Linked DNA regions of Homo sapiens: region 2 is linked to region 1. A link means that fine-mapping ties the variant in region 1 to the expression of a gene that starts in the linked region. Tissue or cell type: thyroid. Region 1 holds a variant in brackets; the other region holds the start of a gene. All regions are shown on one strand. Distances are between the middles of the regions.

Region 1 (2,692 bases):
AAAGGCTTATAACTTTTGCCTCATAAATTTTGCCTTAGTCCTTCTTGATAATTCGAATAATATGATAAAATTGCTTTTGTCTTCTGAATACATTTATTTACAAATATAAATATCAGACTCGATCTCAAGACATCAAATTAAAGATGCCCATTAAAAAATTTTAATTTGCAGGATCTCTGCACGGAAGTTTTCTGGTTTTTTTTTTTTTTCCCCTTGGAGATTGAGTCTTGCTCTGTCACCCAAGCTGGAGTGCAGTGGCACTATCTTGGCTCACTGTAACCTCTTGCCTCTTGCATTCAAGGGACTCTCCTGCCTCATTCTCCCAAGTAGCTGGGATTACAGGTGCTCGCCACCACACCTGGCTAATTTTTGTATTTTTAGTAGAGACGAGGTTTCACAATGTTGGCCAGGCTGGTCTTGAACTCCTGACCTAAAGTGATCCTCCCACCTCAGTCCCCCAAAATGCTGGGATTATAGGTGTGAGCCATCATGCCCAGTCTGGATGTTTTAACAAAGCAAATAAAACTTCAACTAATAAATTGGTTTTTATATTTTAAATGAAAGACAAGATGTTTTGTTACTACTGGTATATATTTTAAAATCTATTTTCAGGATCAGTGTTGGCCAATGAAGATACCTGTGAATGGAAACTCTTAGACTGTCAATAAGAAGAGCATACAAGATGCATTAAAAAAAAAAAAAAGCAAATAGTGATTTTTATTAGAACTGAAAAAAAGCTGAATAAATGAAAAACAGTCAATAGTATTTAAACACTGAAATAGAACATTGGGCATTAGGTGAGATTTTTTTCAAAAGAATATTATTGTGTGTAGTATGTACCTAAGCATAATGATGTTTTCTGTGGCAATAGCAGAACGATATTTACAGAAAACAATGGAAAATTTCTAGGTTAAGTAGAAATGCTTTTGAAATTTGATGTTAAAATGGCCAAACACATAAGAGAGATCAAAAGAAAGTGAAATAAATGATCACTATCTAGAATGAAGAATTTTAAAAGAAATTGTTAATAATGAGTAATAAAATAAGAATATTTAATACATAAAAATTGTAAAGGTCAACTAGATTCTACCAGTGATAAAAGACACATTATACACCAACTTTTATCATGCAAAGTATTCAAAACTACAAGATGAAGAAACAAGGAAGTTAAAAATTCCAAATGTTTCATTAGTTTTTACATCTGTTGTAAAAAGTAAGAATTTTCACTTTTATGAAAAGATGAAGAAACAACTTTCAATTTTAGGCATTGATTTGAAAGTTTGTTAACAATTGTGCTCAGGTGGTTGTTGAAGAAAAAACCAACAAGCCAGATGACTCAA[A/C]ATAGTTTGAATTTGTTACCAGGAGACAAATGCTTAACTTCTTTATAACTACGGTATTCTGTGGAACACTTCCAAGCCTTATGTATGATATTGTCTTTATCTGCCTAAAGATGAAAAACTAAAGAAACTAATATCAATTTTGGCCACCCAATCATCCTTTGACACATCATGGCAATGCTGACTGAATGCTGTTAAGGCAATTAGATTTAATTCAGGCAAGATATCAGATATATTGAAGAGTTAAGTAAAACAATAGAGGAGCTTCAAATAAACAGGAAATTATGATCTTCAACAGAAAATCAAATTAATTTTGAACATGAGTGGCTCATGTTTTTTTGTTATTTGGAATGCATTTTTTTTTGACAAAATCTTACAAAAATAAAAATCTGAGTTGTGCCATTTTACTTATAAAAAGGTTACAAATGTTTTTAATTTTTAAAACATTTTTCTAAATCAAAAGAAAGTGCATGTGATATGTGCAATGAAATAACATTCCAATAAAATATAAGTTAATTAGAACAAGAAAAAAAAATATGTACATGGATAAAAAGGAGATCCACACACAAATAATCCTGAAAGAAATTTTGGTAAGGATTGTTTTCTGGTCATTGTAGATCAACGTATGCTGTCTATTGAAGAGAAATTTGAACAAATGCTGCAATATAGTGCTATTTTCAGTTTTCTTTATACTATTCCAGCTTCAAAAAACTTGAAAGACATTTTAAAAATATTACCATGCATCTAAACTTTGCTTTAAGAGATAGTTAAAATCACGATATGTGATAACAATTATATTGTAAATCACGGTATTTTTCATGATAATGCTAATTTATCACAAGTGATTCTATTATAATATGTACACAAGATATGTAACATTTATGGCTATTTCTGAGTTTACTGTTTTAGAGCATTTACTGACGATTCTATAATTGTTACAATTTCTTGTGTCATTATAATTCTATAATTATAATTATAATTCTGTAATGACACAAGAAAGGCTTTTTAAATTGGCATTCTATCAACAGAACAAGATCTTGATTATAATAGCATTATTAGTAATTTTGTTAAAATTCAAGCAAGAAAAATAAATTTTACAAATGAATGTATAGTTTATAAATTATGTCTGTCTTCAGTTTACTAATCATCCAAACTTCCCTGGTTCATTAAGAGAACAAGCAGAAATGGTCAATTAATAATCACTGTAAGCCATCTTTGATATTTTGCCAATTTATAAGTCATTTAGTTAACCACTGCTTAACACATACCTTTTGATATTGTCATGATGGTATATTTGTCAAGGTAGGTAGTTGTAACATATTTTAACAGTTTATTAATACAATGGTCAGTTTTAT
Region 2 (2,692 bases), 47 kb after region 1:
ACAGGCTGATAGCATGACAAGAAGGGAAGGCAGCTGGAGGGGAGAGAGGATGAACTTGGAGGCATTGGAGCCCAGGGCTCCAGAGAACAACAAACAGTTACTAAACTCTTCCTCTTCAGTTTCAGCAGAGTCTATAAACTCAGTACTATTATTATCCCACTTTCACACACAATAAAACTGAATCTCAGGGCCAGGAGCAGTGGCTCACGCCTGTAATCCCAGCACTTTGGGAGGCCGAGGCTGGGGATTACCTGAGGTCAGGAGTTTGAGACCAGCCTGGCCAACATGGAGAGACCCTGTCTCTATTAAAAATACAAAAATTAGCCAGATGTGCTGGTAGGCACCTACAGTCCCAGCTACTGGGAAAGCTGAGGCAGGAGAATCGCTTGAACCCAGGAGGCAGAGGTTGCAGTGAGCCAAGATCGCGCCACTGGACTCTAGCCTGGGAGACAGAGCGAGACTCCGTCTAAAAACAAAACAACACTGAATCTCAATAGGGTCAAGTAATGTGTACCCGGCCACATATAATTGGTGGGACTAAAGCATCAGTTCCTACAGTCTGACTCCAGAGTCCTTTCTTTGACACTATGAGGAATTCCCTGAAGATACTCTTGGGACTACCTGCATGGGACTCACCCGAAGCACTTATTTCCAATGCCGATTCCAAGCCAGGCCTCATTCATCAAACTTTCTGTGGGCAGAGCTCCAGAGTAGAGAGTCAAACAGCATTCCCCATCCGTGTTCTGACCTTGGGAAGGGTTCTCCTTGGGCCTCAGTTTCCTCTTTTGTAAAATGAGGATCAGTGAGGTCACTTCCAGTTCAAAAATGAGCTGACTATAATTCATCTTTAAACCCAGCAACCTGGATGCAGCCTGCCAACCAGGCCTTTACCATATATCTCCTTATCTTTAAATATCCATGCTATTGAGCGGTATTTTAAGTACCACTAAATTTATAGTTTGATACACAAATACTCACAGAGTTTCCCTGGAAACCTAGGAGAACTGGACGTCCCTCCAATATGGCATTTTTGAGGTACAGCCCTCCCGCGGGGGAGGACTAAGCAACTTCTCTAGGTCTCTTCTCTTCTGCGGATTCTTTTTTTCTCTGCTTTCTTGGCACTGCTAAAGACAAAGAATTCATCGATAGTCTTAATTTTCCTTCCTCTCTGAAGTTACAATCTAATTTAGTGGTCATCTTTTAAAAGTTGAAACCAGACATCCTGTACTTCTCATTAGCTCTAACCTATGTTTGGTTTGCTCTGGTTTTGCTTTTCTGATTTTTTTCTTTGGAGAAAGAAAAGTGAGAACTAGGGGCATTGGCCAAACAAGTCTGTCCACTTGGTGGAGAGGTTTCCAGATAAGAAGGATCTGAAGGACTTCCCATGGGCGTGAGGGAAATCGCACACGCCATCCGGGGAAGAGGACCAGGAAATCACTTTTTGTTTTTAAAACAGCAGCGCGGCTCTCAGGGATGACTCTGTGAGACTGGGAGGATCATAGCTGGGGGAGGCTGAGCGTGGGAGCGGTGCTGCCAGTCCTGCCTGAAAACGCGAAATGAGTCTTGCTTGGTTCTCCCTCCACTGGGCGTGAGAGCCCCTGCCCAGGAGGCCCAGGACAAATGGCCCCATAGTGGAAACTGGGAAGCTTTTAGGCATCTGATCAGAGCGGGAGCCAGCCGGGGGACCACAGTGCTGGACAGGTAACAGACATTTCTCCTACTGCGGTCTGTCATTCTGTCTCCCTTTGTAGCAAGACCTCAGGGGCTCCTAAGTCACTTCTCTTAAGACATCTTCCACTTACGATCCTCTTTGCCTGCTTTTCTTTTGCGTAGGTGTGATATGTATGTTGGGAAAGTTAAGTATGTCCAGTCAAGAGCATTGTGCATACTGTTGGTCCAGTTAATGAGACTATATTAAAGGAGATGGCGTATCAAGCAACTAGCTGGGATCCTTTAGGATTTTCTTAATAACAGACTTTTTTTTTTTCAAACAAGTTCTCTCGTCCTTAAACCAGAAAATACTATAAAAACCAGTGCATTCATGAGCTACTGAGCTGCTGCTCTTGCCAAGAGCATTTCAGGGCCAGTCGGCCATTGCTGTGGTCAGGCTGAGGAAGGAAGAGGCTGCATCCCAGTAGCAGGAGGAGGGAGCCCTGGCTATTCGCTCAGCTTCGGGAGAGTCCTTCCAAAGGACAAGGGATGACCTTAGAAATGTAAAATGTAGGCTGCAGCCTCCCACACAGGACTGAGGGGAAAGGAGTTTGTAGTCAGCATTAGGAAGGAGGTCAGTAAAAGTGCTGGGGCTTCAGGGCCAGGCCGACTTGTTTTGAAAGGAGCAACTCTATGATGTGCGGTTTGCTTAAACCATGTTTTCTCATATTTCAGAAAGCCAGGTCATGCCACTTCACTACAGCATTTTTTCTTTCATAAAGGGCTAACGTAGTTGGTTTTTCAATGTAGGTTATTTTTGAATTACACAGATAATACTTGACTATATTCTTATCGTAAAAGAATATCTCTAAATAGATTTTATTTTTATTTTTATTTTTTTGAGATGGAGTCTTGCTCTGTCGCCCAGGTTGGAGTGCAGTGGCACGATCTTGGTTCACTACAACCTCTGCCTCCCGGGTTCAAACGATCCTCCTGCCTCAACCTCCCAAGCAGCTGGGATTACAGGCACCCGCCACCACAC

What was found. PIP is the estimated chance that this variant, and not a neighbour inherited with it, causes the effect.
Region 2: ADGRF5 starts here. The variant in region 1 is the best candidate, but not a certain one, in a credible set for the expression of ADGRF5 in thyroid (GTEx, PIP 0.54).

What each region holds. Positions count from the first base shown.
Region 1 is chr6:46,968,081-46,970,772 of GRCh38, reverse strand. No RefSeq gene overlaps it. Among named protein-coding and RNA genes, the nearest start is that of ADGRF5, 47 kb to the right of the region's middle. The variant A/C (reference allele first, on the strand shown) is at 1,341.
Region 2 is chr6:46,920,722-46,923,413 of GRCh38, reverse strand. It overlaps ADGRF5 (adhesion G protein-coupled receptor F5), which reads left to right and starts at 1,476. Exons shown (of 21, transcript NM_001098518.2): 1 at 1,476-1,701. It overlaps LOC105375080 (a long non-coding RNA gene), which reads right to left and starts at 1,335. Exons shown (of 3, transcript XR_001744147.2): 1 at 979-1,335.